Linked DNA regions of Homo sapiens. The protein of the gene in region 1 purifies or fractionates together with the protein of each later gene. This does not show direct contact. Each region holds a gene or a part of one and is shown on either strand. Other genes may lie near its edges.

Region 1 (7,572 bases):
GGCGAAACCCCATCTCTACAAAACAAATAAAAAAAATGCAAAAATTAGCTGGGTGTGGTGGCGGGAGTCTGTAGTCCTAGCTACTCGGGAGGCTGAGGCAGGAGAACTGCTTGAACCCAGGAGGTGGAGGTTATATGAGCCAAGATCACACCACTGCACTCCCGCCTGGGTGACAGAGCGAGACTCTGTCTCAAAAAAAAAAAAAAAAAAAAAAAAAAAAATCAACATCCCAAACCCAGTGTTGACAGTCTTATTTATGGGTTGAACTGCATTCCTCCCAAATGCATATATTGAAGTCCTAAGTCACAGTACCTGAGAATGTGACCTTATTTGGAAATAGGGCTATTACAGATGTAACTCGTTAAGATGAGGTCATTAGGCTGGGCCTAATCTAATATGCCTGACCTCCTTAGAAAAAAGGGAAAATTCGAACACAGAGAGAACACCATGTGAAGATGAAGGCAGGGATTGGGGGTGACACTTCTGCAAGCCAGTGAATGCCACAGCTTGTCAGCAGCCAGCAGAAGGCAGGTAAAAGGCCTTCCTCGCTGTCCTCGAAGGAACCAACTCTGCCAATGTCTTGAACTTGCACTCCTAACCTCCAGCTCTGTGAGACGACTTCTGTTGTTTATGCCACCCAATTTGTGGTACTTAGTTACGGCAGCCTCATCAAAGTACCACCTATGGGAGCCTCTATTTTGCAGGTGAGGGCGGGGACTGGGCTTTTTCTGGAAAACAGCCCTGCAATACCCTCATCAGACCACCAAACTCTTCACACTCCCTCAGACACAGCATTCACTTCCAGAAATAACTCTAAAGTTTTGTTTTGTTTTTTTAAACTTTGTGGAATACTACTCAGCCAAAAAAAAAAAAAAGAAAAGAAAAAGGAACATGTTACTGATATGTACAACTTGGATAATGGAAATAATGCTGAGTGAAAAAAAAATCCCCAAAGGCTACATACTAATTGATTCCATTTATATAACCTTTTTTTTTTTTTTTGAGACAGTCTCACTCTGTCACCCAGGCTGGAGCACAGTGGCGCGATCTCAGCTCACTGCAACTTCCGCCTCCTGAGTTCAAGCGATTCTCTTGCCTTAGCTTCCCAAGTAGCTGGGATTACAGGTGCGTGCCACCATGCCCAGCTAATTTTTGTATTTTTAGTAGAGACAGGGTTTCGCCATGTTGGCCAGGCTGGTCTCGAACTCCTGACCTCAAGTGATCTGCCTGCCTTGGCTTCCCAAAGTGCTGGGATTACATGAGTGAGCCACCGCACCTGGCCGCATTTATGTAACAATTTTGAAGTGAAAAAAAAAAATGACAGAAATGGAGATTAGATGAGTAGTTGCCAGGGGTTAGTTGTGGGAGGGAGGGAAAAGGAGGGAAGGAGGTGGGCAACAGGAGAAAGACTTGTGGTCACAGAGCTGTGCTTTATCTTGACTGTGGTGGATCCCCAAATTTACCCGTGACAAGATTGCATAGAACTAAGTATACACACACGTGAATGCGTGTGCACGCACACAGTAGAGGTTAAACCACGGGAGATGTGGGTAAGATTGGTAAATTGTGTCAATATCAATATCCTAGTTGTGATATTGTCCTATAGTTTCGCAAGGTGTTATTGTTGTGGGAAACTGGATAAAGGATACACGGAGTCTGCATTTTCTTTTTTTTATTTTTATTTTTTGAGACGGGGTCTCACTCTGTCATCCAGGCTGGAGTGCAGTGGCCCAAGTATGGCTCACTGCAGCCTCGACCTCAACCTCAAGTGAACCTCCCACCTCAGCCTCCCAAGTAGCTAAGACCACAGGCGTGCGACCCCATGCCCAGCTAATTTTTAAATTTTTTGTAGAGACTAGGCCTCACCATGTTGCCCAGGCTTTTATTTCTTATAAGTATATTTAAATTTATAATTATATCCACATTTTAAAATTTTAATTTAAAAAATTACTCTGAGGCCGGGCATTGTGGCTCATGCCTCTAATCCCCAGCACCTTGGGAGGCCGAGTTGGGCAGATCACCCGAGGTCAGAAGTTCGAGACCAGCCTGAGTAACATGGAGAAACCCCCGTCTCTACTAAAAATACAAAATTGGCCGGGCGTGGTGGTGCATTCCTGTAATCCCAGCTACTCGGGAGGCTGAGGCAGGAGAATTGCTTGAACCCAGGAGGTGGAGGTTGCAGTGAGCCAAGATTGTGCCACTGCACTGCAGCCTGGGCCACAGAGAGAATCTGCCAAAAAAAGAAAAAAAAAAAAATTTCAGCCGTACAAGGATGTTCATAGCAACCCTGCTGGAAATAGGAAAAAAAATTGGAAATAACCTAAACTACTCACAATAGGAATCAGCTAAAACCCTGGGGGTTTAATTCCAGGGAGTACTGTGAACAATGACAAGTTTGTGGACTGAGTAAAAATAAACAGCTGTCAATGACTTAACATTAAATGAAACAGCAGAAGATGTCACAGCAGGTTCTCGCTGAGCCATTCAGAGGGGTGTGGATCATTTAGAGGTTCAAGTCCACTGGATTCTTCTTTTTCCTTTTAATATTACTTCACTTCCAAATAAGGAAAGGAAAGGAAAGGAAATCACGTCCAGTCCTGAGACTTGCCATCCTGCAGTCACCCCTCCTTTTGTCTCCAGCAGGTGGCAGACGCGTTCCAGGGATGAATCCCACTGCCTCTGTTTAATGCAGACGGTCCAGCCGCTCCCAACAGCAGGTGGGGCTATAAGCATCCATCCTACCTGCTCAAGGAACCCAGGCATCAGAACTGCTCTCTCCCAAGTCCATTGCAAGAAGGCAGTCGTCTGGTCATGAGAGGGTTAACAGTCCACATTCCAGAGCAAGGGAAAAGGAGGCTGGAGGGTCATAGACAAGGGGAGGTGGCGCGGAGGGCCAGCTTCTCACAACACTACCGGCTCTGCTGGGAGAGATAGATCACCCCCAACAATGGCCACAGCTGTTTTCATCTGCCCTGAAGGAAACTGACTTAGGAAGCAGGTATCAGAGAGGGCCCTTCCTGAGGGGGCTTCTGTCTGGCTTGTAAAACTGTCAGAGCAGCTGCATTCATGTGTCGGATGATGGATGATGGAAAGGAGGACAGTCGGCTGCAGATGGACACAGCGACTTGCAAGTTGAGGCAGGTGGCAAAGGACTTGCAGAGGCTCTGCAGGTGGGGCATGCTGATTCATTGCCCAGTTAAAATACCAGAGGATCTGGGCAGCCTCTTCACAGGAGCTGCTTGTCCTCAAACAATCTGTCTTCAATGAAAGATTCCTCTGGCCTTCCTTTCTCTTCTTGCACCTCAGGTGTGAATCCTTCTCCCCCACGCCTCTACCTGCCCCCCCGCCCCCCGCCCCGGCCCTGTGTGGCTCATTATATGCAGGGCCAAGGCAGCATTTTCTCTTAGCTTCTTTGTGACCACTTGGTCCTGGGATGGCTTCATGGAACACATCCTGTGGTGTGCACCAATGAAGCTTTCCATACAGGACTCAAAACTGTTTTTGAAAAATGTAACCAGCTGGAAGACAAGAAAATAAAATGTCAGCACTAAAAACGCTGGCTGTGGCTTTTGCTAAGGAAAGGAATTTGGTGTTGTCTTCTCACACACACAGACTGGTTGGGGAAATGACTGTCTTCAGCACATCACCCTGCGAGCCACAGTGAGTGCCCTGGCTCAGAAGTGCCTGTCACAGTGCACAGGATCCCTGAGGAGCATGAGCTGGGATTTCCTCTGTGCTGTCCACCACAGGAGCCTGAGTGACCAGCGCATCCTCGATTTGTAACCAGAATCCTGCCCTCTCTCCCAAGCGGGCACCCTTGCTCTGACCCTCTAGTTCTCTCTCTTGCCTTCCAGAGAATACCAAGAGAGGCTTTCTTGGTTAGGACAATGAATGCTGAGACTTGTGGAGTTGGGACCAATGGGATTTCTTTAAAAGCATCTTTTTGCCTCTGGCTGGGTCTATGGGGGTCAAACAGAAACGCCTTGGGCCATTTGTTGGTGGGGTGACAAATGAACTTGGCCTGAGAAATGGAATAGGCCGGGCTCAGCCCCGCGAAGCACTCAGAACTGCACATTTTCTTTGTTGAGCGGGTCCACAGTTTGTTTTGAGAATGCCCGAGGGCCCAGGGAGACAGACAATTAAAAGCCGGAGCTCATTTTGATATCTGAAAACCACAGCCGCCAGCACGTGGGAGGTGCCGGAGAGCAGGCTTGGGCCTTGCCTCACACGCCCCCTCTCTCTGGGTCACCTGGGAGTGCCAGCAGCAATTTGGAAGTTTGCTGAGCTAGAGGAGAAGTCTTTGGGGAGGGTTTGCTCTGAGCACACCCCTTTCCCTCCCTCCGGGGCTGAGGGAAACATGGGACCAGCCCTGCCCCAGCCTGTCCTCATTGGCTGGCATGAAGCAGAGAGGGGCTTTAAAAAGGCGACCGTGTCTCGGCTGGAGACCAGAGCCTGTGCTACTGGAAGGTGGCGTGCCCTCCTCTGGCTGGTACCATGCAGCTCCCACTGGCCCTGTGTCTCGTCTGCCTGCTGGTACACACAGCCTTCCGTGTAGTGGAGGGCCAGGGGTGGCAGGCGTTCAAGAATGATGCCACGGAAATCATCCCCGAGCTCGGAGAGTACCCCGAGCCTCCACCGGAGCTGGAGAACAACAAGACCATGAACCGGGCGGAGAACGGAGGGCGGCCTCCCCACCACCCCTTTGAGACCAAAGGTATGGGGTGGAGGAGAGAATTCTTAGTAAAAGATCCTGGGGAGGTTTTAGAAACTTCTCTTTGGGAGGCTTGGAAGACTGGGGTAGACCCAGTGAAGATTGCTGGCCTCTGCCAGCACTGGTCGAGGAACAGTCTTGCCTGGAGGTGGGGGAAGAATGGCTCGCTGGTGCAGCCTTCAAATTCAGGTGCAGAGGCATGAGGCAACAGACGCTGGTGAGAGCCCAGGGCAGGGAGGACGCTGGGGTGGTGAGGGTATGGCATCAGGGCATCAGAACAGGCTCAGGGGCTCAGAAAAGAAAAGGTTTCAAAGAATCTCCTCCTGGGAATATAGGAGCCACGTCCAGCTGCTGGTACCACTGGGAAGGGAACAAGGTAAGGGAGCCTCCCATCCACAGAACAGCACCTGTGGGGCACCGGACACTCTATGCTGGTGGTGGCTGTCCCCACCACACAGACCCACATCATGGAATCCCCAGGAGGTGAACCCCCAGCTCGAAGGGGAAGAAACAGGTTCCAGGCACTCAGTAACTTGGTAGTGAGAAGAGCTGAGGTGTGAACCTGGTTTGATCCAACTGCAAGATAGCCCTGGTGTGTGGGGGGGTGTGGGGGACAGATCTCCACAAAGCAGTGGGGAGGAAGGCCAGAGAGGCACCCCTGCAGTGTGCATTGCCCACGGCCTGCCCAGGGAGCTGGCACTTGAAGGAATGGGAGTTTTCGGCACAGTTTTAGCCCCTGACATGGGTGCAGCTGAGTCCAGGCCCTGGAGGGGAGAGCAGCATCCTCTGTGCAGGAGTAGGGACATCTGTCCTCAGCAGCCACCCCAGTCCCAACCTTGCCTCATTCCAGGGGAGGGAGAAGGAAGAGGAACCCTGGGTTCCTGGTCAGGCCTGCACAGAGAAGCCCAGGTGACAGTGTGCATCTGGCTCTATAATTGGCAGGAATCCTGAGGCCATGGGGGCGTCTGAAATGACACTTCAGACTAAGAGCTTCCCTGTCCTCTGGCCATTATCCAGGTGGCAGAGAAGTCCACTGCCCAGGCTCCTGGACCCCAGCCCTCCCCGCCTCACAACCTGTTGGGACTATGGGGTGCTAAAAAGGGCAACTGCATGGGAGGCCAGCCAGGACCCTCCGTCTTCAAAATGGAGGACAAGGGCGCCTCCCCCCACAGCTCCCCTTCTAGGCAAGGTCAGCTGGGCTCCAGCGACTGCCTGAAGGGCTGTAAGGAACCCAAACACAAAATGTCCACCTTGCTGGACTCCCACGAGAGGCCACAGCCCCTGAGGAAGCCACATGCTCAAAACAAAGTCATGATCTGCAGAGGAAGTGCCTGGCCTAGGGGCGCTATTCTCGAAAAGCCGCAAAATGCCCCCTTCCCTGGGCAAATGCCCCCCTGACCACACACACATTCCAGCCCTGCAGAGGTGAGGATGCAAACCAGCCCACAGACCAGAAAGCAGCCCCAGACGATGGCAGTGGCCACATCTCCCCTGCTGTGCTTGCTCTTCAGAGTGGGGGTGGGGGGTGGCCTTCTCTGTCCCCTCTCTGGTTTGGTCTTAAGACTATTTTTCATTCTTTCTTGTCACATTGGAACTATCCCCATGAAACCTTTGGGGGTGGACTGGTACTCACACGACGACCAGCTATTTAAAAAGCTCCCACCCATCTAAGTCCACCATAGGAGACATGGTCAAGGTGTGTGCAGGGGATCAGGCCAGGCCTCGGAGCCCAATCTCTGCCTGCCCAGGGAGTATCACCATGAGGCGCCCATTCAGATAACACAGAACAAGAAATGTGCCCAGCAGAGAGCCAGGTCAATGTTTGTGGCAGCTGAACCTGTAGGTTTTGGGTCAGAGCTCAGGGCCCCTATGGTAGGAAAGTAACGACAGTAAAAAGCAGCCCTCAGCTCCATCCCCCAGCCCAGCCTCCCATGGATGCTCGAACGCAGAGCCTCCACTCTTGCCGGAGCCAAAAGGTGCTGGGACCCCAGGGAAGTGGAGTCCGGAGATGCAGCCCAGCCTTTTGGGCAAGTTCTTTTCTCTGGCTGGGCCTCAGTATTCTCATTGATAATGAGGGGGTTGGACACACTGCCTTTGATTCCTTTCAAGTCTAATGAATTCCTGTCCTGATCACCTCCCCTTCAGTCCCTCGCCTCCACAGCAGCTGCCCTGATTTATTACCTTCAATTAACCTCTACTCCTTTCTCCATCCCCTGTCCACCCCTCCCAAGTGGCTGGAAAAGGAATTTGGGAGAAGCCAGAGCCAGGCAGAAGGTGTGCTGAGTACTTACCCTGCCCAGGCCAGGGACCCTGCGGCACAAGTGTGGCTTAAATCATAAGAAGACCCCAGAAGAGAAATGATAATAATAATACATAACAGCCGACGCTTTCAGCTATATGTGCCAAATGGTATTTTCTGCATTGCGTGTGTAATGGATTAACTCGCAATGCTTGGGGCGGCCCATTTTGCAGACAGGAAGAAGAGAGAGGTTAAGGAACTTGCCCAAGATGACACCTGCAGTGAGCGATGGAGCCCTGGTGTTTGAACCCCAGCAGTCATTTGGCTCCGAGGGGACAGGGTGCGCAGGAGAGCTTTCCACCAGCTCTAGAGCATCTGGGACCTTCCTGCAATAGATGTTCAGGGGCAAAAGCCTCTGGAGACAGGCTTGGCAAAAGCAGGGCTGGGGTGGAGAGAGACGGGCCGGTCCAGGGCAGGGGTGGCCAGGCGGGCGGCCACCCTCACGCGCGCCTCTCTCCACAGACGTGTCCGAGTACAGCTGCCGCGAGCTGCACTTCACCCGCTACGTGACCGATGGGCCGTGCCGCAGCGCCAAGCCGGTCACCGAGCTGGTGTGCTCCGG
Region 2 (7,166 bases), on another chromosome or scaffold:
AGCCACCACGCACAGCCGATGGGTATTGTTTCATTTAATCCTCACCATAACCCTTCGAGGGGTGGATACTGTTGTTGCCATTCCAAGTGAGGAGTCCCCATTTCAGAGGTGAAATGCTTTTTCAAAAGCTGATGGGACTAGAAAAGGTGAAGCTGCTGAACCCAGGACTTGCTGCCTCTTACTGTCTGCTGTCCATGGCTAGTTGTGGGCCTGGTCCAAGGCCAGATCATTTGAGTGTGGCATCCTTATGGTTTAACTGCTGTCTTTGTGCTAAAGCCCTCTGGTGGGGGCCCTCGTGAAGGCCTGGGCTGGTAGGCTGGGTATCTGGCCTTCCAGCTGTTGTCTGTGTCTGGCAGAGCGATCCTGTCGGTCCTTGGAGAGAGCACTGCATAGCCTGACCCATGGCCTGCATGTTGCCTCAAATGCACCCTTGGGTCTACAAACTGGGATAGACTCCCTGCATCCTGCAGCTCTACCCTGGCCTACAGGCTGGAAGCCTGTCAGCTGCAATGAAGTTTGCTACAAATAGGCAGAAATGCCAAGTGCAGCTCAGCCAGGCAGTGAATCCAGCAGTACAGCTTGCTGGTTAAAGGACAGGGGCTTTGAAGGTCCTGAACAGGGGATGTGTCATGTTGCCCAAGAAAGTGATTGCTTCAGGAGAGGGGACCTGGCATCCAGCATGGGGGGAATAGTCTCCTTTTTGCTCTGGGCCCTTCTACCTGATTGAGTTTTGTACTGTGTGCAAGTAACTCCTAAACCAAGAAGAACTTGGATGTTGATGTTAGCCAGGCCTGGGTTCAACACCTGGCTCTGCTGCATGTCACAGTCACAGCCGACATTTGTGGAGCTCTGTCTACATGTTGTGCTAATTTTGGCCTATTTGCCATTTACTGGTCATGTGACATTGGACAAGTGGCTTTTTCTCTGAACCTCTTTCCTCCTTCCCCAGTTATGAATGATAATGTTTTGCAGAGTTGGGGATTGAGTGAGGACATGAGAAAGCGCTTGCCACAGGGCCTGAGATGTTGGGAGAACTCAGTAAATGGGAACTGTCAATTATGGCTTTTGTTCTGAGTGTAAATGTTGGGGGGATGAGTGTTGCTGAGGGGCTACAGAGAAGCAGGTCTTAGCAGCATGTCGGGAGAGGCTGCCTGCCTTGGCCTTCAGGGATGAGTGTGCTGCAGTTCCACACTACCCCCAAGGGATGGCTTTTCTGAGAAGACAAGGACACTGTGGCAGTGAGCATGCCCTTTCCAGACTCTTCCCGGAAAGGTTCAGTTCCCACAATGCTAGAATTTTCACCTGACTCCTTGTCAGCATTGCCATTGGTCCACGGATGTAGGTAGCACCTTTCACAATGCATTCTGTTCAGCATTTGCCTGTAGTGGTCTGTTTCATCCCTGTTGCTTCGTACAATACTTCCCCCTATTGTAGGTTTTCTGATGTCTTGCTAATGTATTTTGGAATTAGTGCGTACACTAGATTGAAGAGTCATTCATTTTGTGATCGCACATTCCCCTAGAAAACTGGGAAGTCCAGTCTGATCCATGGGAAAACTGCAGTTCCTGGGGGTTTCCCTGAGATCTCCAGCCCTTCTGCCTTCCATGACAATGCTCTTTGGTAAAATTCTGAAGTACCTGAGAGCTTTTAAATTGTGAATAATACAACAAACTCACCTGTGCCACCAGGCTCAGCCCAGGCATAAAGTATGACCTGTACCTGTGGGGCCCCTTTGTGCCTTCTCTGTTTGTCCCTCTCCCTTCCAAAGGTAAGCATTTGGGGTCACCAGGTGGATCTCAAGCTTGGCTACAGAGGGAGTCACCTGAGGAGGTCAGTACTGGTGCCTGGGTCCCAGCCAGGGTGTGGCCCAGGCAGTAGGACTTTGAAGAGCTCTCTGGGTGATTCTAGTGTGCAACCAGCATTGAGAACCACAAGTGTCCATCTTTCCAGGTATTACTCTTACTATAGCTGTGCATGTCCCTAAACAAGGCGCTGTTGGTGTGTTTTTAAACGTGATGTAAATGGTGCTGTACAGTTTGTATGTTTTGCTTTTGCTTACGTAGCATTATGCTTGTGAGATCAATCCACAACTAAATAGCTCTCGTTCAGACATTTTCCGGTGGTAGAGTGTCCATTCTAGAAGCATACAGCCGCTGCCGGAGCCATATTCTGTTGATGATCATGTAGAGGGTTTGCGGTGTTCACTGTGACGAATGTGAACATCCTTGAACGCTTTCCCCGTGCGTGGGAGTTTCTCTGTGCGATGCTGCCCAGCCTTTGCCACATCATGGGGCACGTAGACAATCATATTTTCACTTTGGCAAATGAGGGGGCTCTGGACTCCCTAGATCCCACCCAGCCATCTCAAGGGCTATGGCTTTAAGATCTTACCCACTGTTGGGAGCTCAGCCCTAGAGTTTATTCCCAGGAGGGGAATTGGGACAGCATCTTCTACTTCCTTAGATATTGCAGGAGTCCCTTCTGGAGTGGTTATGGCAACTTCTACTCCCTGCAGAAGTCTGGATTTTTGCCAACCCTTGGCACTGTCCAACCTTTTAATTATTGCAAATCTGGTGAGTATGATATGGTACCTTGTTTTATTCAGTATTTCCTAATGTCTGGTACGTTGAGCATGTTTTTATGTGTATTGCTCTTTTGAGTTTAATCTTTTAACTGCTTGATTGCATCTTACTTACACATTTGCCTTTTTCTTATTACTTTGCAAAAGTTCATATACTGGATCCTGTTTCTTTGGGGTCCAGTGCTGCAAATATCTTCTCCCAGTCTGACTTGTCTGAGCTTTTTTAATGGGGCTTTTGGAAACCTCAGAGTTTAAATCGCTTTTTTACACTTACATCCTTGATCTACCTCAGTGATGCCCAAACCAATGGGTGATTTTTTGGGATATTTAGCAATGTCCAGAGACATTTTTGTTGTTTCTTGGGGATGATGGTGCTCCTGGCGTCAAGTGAGTAGAGGCCAGGGATGCAACTAAATACCCTACAATGTGCGGGGCAGCCTCTTACAACTAAGAATTATCTGGTCCAAAATGTCAAAGTGCTCAGGTTGGAGACCCTGCCCTAGGGATTCTGATCAGGAATGAGGCAGGTTGCTAGAATCTGAATTTTTCACAAGTACCTTGGGTGGCATTTATGATCAGGGGTGTTTGGGAACCACAAAAATATAGAGTATAAATACCTTAGGATGGCAAAGAGAGGTCAGTGAAGGTTCCCTGGAGGTGGTGGGAGAGGGGAAAGGAGAGGTCAGACATCCAGGGAGAGAGGAAGCACATGGTATGCTCACGGGGCGGGGAGGAGGGGAGCCTAGTGGCCCAATCCTCCTGACCCCCAGAGCAGCCTTCTCCTCCCTTGGGTCCCTGAAAGCAACACCAACTCCATCCTGGGGGCTGGAACTTGCTGCCTCTGGACGCTGCTGCTCTGCTTCCAGCAATAATGATGAAAGATGAGATTGTTAAAGACCCATAGCTGCTTTTGAGTGCTGTTGGTAGACCCAGCATTGTGCTGTGTGCCTTCTGTACGTTCTTTCATCATATTTTTATGTCAACCCTGTGAGATCGTTTGTAGAAGAGAAAACTGCTAGACAGAGGTTAATTGAAGCACCAATGTCATCCAGCAAGAAGGTATCAGAGCTGGGTTTCCAACACTTAACTGCTGTGCTGTGCTGAGGACGTCCTGGAGCCCAAGTCCAGTGCTGCCCAGTGTGGTCCCGGTCAGTTCTGCTCTCCAGCCTTGCCTAATGGGTCTGGGATCCCAGGCTGCCCTGACTTTGGACAGCCTTCCTAAATAGCTCTCGTGCCCCGTGGCAGCAGGAGAGAGACCCCCCACATGCGAGGAGCTGCTTGACTTCCATTTGTCTTTCTACGTGCTAGGCATTTGAGCTGACTTTCAAAGGGATCACTTCCTGCTTTGAAAGCAACCACAGTATCTTAAAGTCAAAACGCTGATTGAAACCTCCTGGAGAGTGTGCCTGGCTCCCTTGCCCTTATTTGTCCAAAGTATGATTCTTTCGCCACAAGCATTTCCTGACGGCATTCTTGAGCCGGAGCCCAGTGTCACGGTCTGCCTGTTCATTTATGGGAACTCTGGGCTGTCATTTGGATAATTGATTTCAGGGCCCTGGGTCTTCCCAAGCAGCTGAGTTCTGCAGACATCAAAGGCAGAACGTGGAAGGTTCCTTCCCTGCGCAGCTGAGTTGAATTCTATTTATCTTTTCAATTCTGGTGAAAGGAGTTTTCCTATGAGTGCCTTACTTTTTCTTTGTGGTCTAGTCCTGCTGCCTCTGCTTGGGAATGGCACTGCACCTCTCTGAGCCTCTGTTTTATTTGTGGAAAATGCAAGGGAATGAGCTCCCCTCAAAAAAGAACTGGTAGAAAGATAATACGGTCTTTCCCTGCCTTGTCAGCCTTCTGAGAAAAAATTACTTGGTGTAGGGTAGCACAGAGGCCTCAAGCTGGTAGCCTGCAGGCCCAGTTCAACTGCAGATGTGTTTTGTTTGCCTTGTGGTGGGTTGATGACAGTTTTGTTTTGTTTTAATTAGTTTACCGTCCTTTAAAAATCAGGGAATTCACAGAAAAATCTGGGTTTCTGGCATTGCATGGAACATCAGAGCTCACAGCTCTTGGGCCCACATTCCTGCCTGGCCACTCTTGGCTGGAGTGGGAAGAGCCTGCCTCTCTTGGGGGCAGGGCAGATGCTGTCCTGTCAGCCCCAGCCTCAGCCCCGCCCAGCTGCACTCATTTATTGTGCTTACTGGCCCTGGAGGCATCTGGGTTGCATAAGATATTAATTCCATATTTTGTTTTCTCAGATGTAGAAAGAAGTGGGGTGGGATCACATTTGCAGGTCACTGTCAGGGTGATGTGATTTACCATGCCTGGGAAGGCCTCTTTCTTCCCTGAAACCAGGAGTTGACTCAGGGCTATACATTTGTATTGCATTTCCCCCCACTTGGGGTATTCTTCCCACCTACTCAGGAAATTGGAACAGTGCGGAAGTAGGAAGTGGAAGCCGCTGGAGGGTGGAGACCGTTCTTTTAACAAAAGGCCCAGGAACTTTAGGCTGAGCTGTTTCATCAGGGGAACCTGGAAACGGCCCTGTTATCAAACTTTCCTGGCAATTCATGCAAAGAATACCAAACTATGCCCTAAAACCATGAGAGGGCACTTGGCAGGGACTGGACCTGCCAGGTAAGGGGTAGGGGAAAGCGGGCAGACTTAAGACTCTGGATTGTGAAAAAGATGCGTTTGCTGCTCTCAACTTTTGCTGGCCTCTGCCACTGATCCAAGGCCCAGGATCAGTAGGGCCCAGTCTGAGGAGGACGTGGAACAGGGCACAGCATTGTTAGGAGTGGAACAGGGCACAGCGTTGTTAGGAGTGGAAATGTTGGCCCTTCTCCCAAAGTGGGGAGGAAGGTGGTAGCATAAAGTGACCGATTCCTACTGAAGCCTTCTCACGGCCCTGCGCACTGGCATTTTCCACCTGTAATGCGTGGCAGGAGCCGTGGGGACGCCCCTTGCCTGAGGTCACCCTGCTTGTCAGAAGGCCTCGACTTCACCCTCTCATCTGTCTGGCTTCTTTTTAGAGCTTCACATTTGCTGTTGGGAGATACTTGGACTTTGCTCCATTCCTGCCTTCCTTTTTGGTACCTCCTCCTCCTAGGCTCCAGTCCTGTCTTCTACAAATACCACTCCCAGAGACACTGCATTTCAGTAGAGGAGTTCTGAAAACCCTCAGGATCTCTGGTGGAGGAATGTCAGCTCAGTGACAAGATTAGAAAGGACATTGAGCAGCAGAGTAGGGAGTCTTCCTGGCCCCCACCCCCAAGAATGTTTCACAGTGCCTGGATTTGGTCAGCTTTGGGACCTTTTTCCATATCCAATAAAAGCTGATTCTGTCTCCCCATGTTTACCGAGCTGCCTGAGGGTGGGGTCTGTCTTGGTCATTCACTAGCCACTAAGTGCTTGTTGCAGGAAGTTGTGGGATAGGACTTCCTGTGTTGGTGCTGGTCAGTGTCTAGGGCTCAGCCTTGGGAGTCAGAGGTCACAGTCTGCGAGGGTGAGACTTGTGCGTTCTTAGAAATGGCTCTGTTAATGTGACAGTTTGAAGGAAGCTTTGTGGAAAGAGGAAGTAGATATTTTTTACCCAGAAGGCTTTCTTCTATCCTTGGTATGTGGCCATTTGGGCCTGTTTTACCCAGGTGTGGTACACGAGGCCCCTGTTGGATGTCCTTGTGTAAGGGATATTTGAGGGTACTTCAGAAGTGTACTTTTGGGCCTCAAGAGTCGGGATGTCTAACAGAGCCTCAGACCAGGGTCACCTGGGGTTATGGTTGTGTCCAGCCAGTAGGGCCTGGAGGCTGTGGGGGCTTCCTCAGCCCTTAGTGGGCAGGTAGGCAGGTGAGGCTGCCATTCTCCAGGCAGTCCCGCTCTCCGCTGGGAGGTAGAGGGAGCCGAGAGACACCCCAGCTCTGCTCAGGGCCTCCCACAAGAGGAGGGCCCATGTAACCAGCCCCTGCCTCCTCCCTCTGCAGGCTGGATCCTCATTGACCGCTGTGGGAAGCACTTTGGTACGATACTCAACTACCTTCGAGACGGGGCGGTGCCTTTACCCGAGAGCCGCCGGGAGATCGAGGAGCTGCTAGCAGAAGCCAAGTACTACCTAGTCCAAGGCCTGGTGGAAGAGTGCCAGGCGGCCCTACAAGTAGGCATCACCCTTTCTTCCCATATGGGTGGAGAGGCACCAAGCCTACCTGCCTTCCTCATTTTCCCTCTCTGCAAAATGGGGGCAGTTTCTGTCTGACTGAGATGTTGTGAGAGTTAATGAGTTTGCCCTGGAGCCCGATTCCTTCGGTTGGAGTGACCCCTGAGAGGCCTCCCTGGAACAGCAGGCCACCTAACTACTGTGTCACTCCTTGCAGCCCCATGCTGTTGGATCTTCTCATGTGTACATCTCAACCCTTCAGCAGAGAACCCCGCGGTGTGAAACTTGGTCGGTGTTCGGGACCAATCTTAGGGCTTACTCTAGTCCCACAAGTCATTGTTGGGAGCTCAGCATAATCTCTACAGACAGACACCCCTCACTCCTTAGCTAGACAGAGCAGGACCACTGGAGTCAGGTCTGGTGACAGTAAAATCCCACAAAAACAAA

What was found. Proteins that work in one complex are often made in the same cells at the same time.
Region 2: the proteins of SOST (region 1) and KCTD10 purify together in Homo sapiens (affinity purification with mass spectrometry; 2 studies listed by BioGRID and IntAct, with this or other methods). This does not show direct contact.

Annotation. Positions count from the first base shown.
Region 1 is NC_000017.11:43,755,664-43,763,235, reverse strand, and holds the start of SOST (sclerostin precursor), read left to right. Parts: upstream 1-4,444; 5' UTR 4,445-4,494; coding exon 4,495-4,714; intron 4,715-7,472; coding exon 7,473-7,572. UniProt on the Homo sapiens protein: Negative regulator of bone growth that acts through inhibition of Wnt signaling and bone formation.
Region 2 is NC_000012.12:109,460,189-109,467,354, reverse strand, and holds part of KCTD10 (BTB/POZ domain-containing adapter for CUL3-mediated RhoA degradation protein 3), read left to right. Parts: intron 1-6,549; coding exon 6,550-6,719; intron 6,720-7,166. UniProt on the Homo sapiens protein: Substrate-specific adapter of a BCR (BTB-CUL3-RBX1) E3 ubiquitin-protein ligase complex. The BCR(BACURD3) E3 ubiquitin ligase complex mediates the ubiquitination of target proteins, leading to their degradation by the proteasome.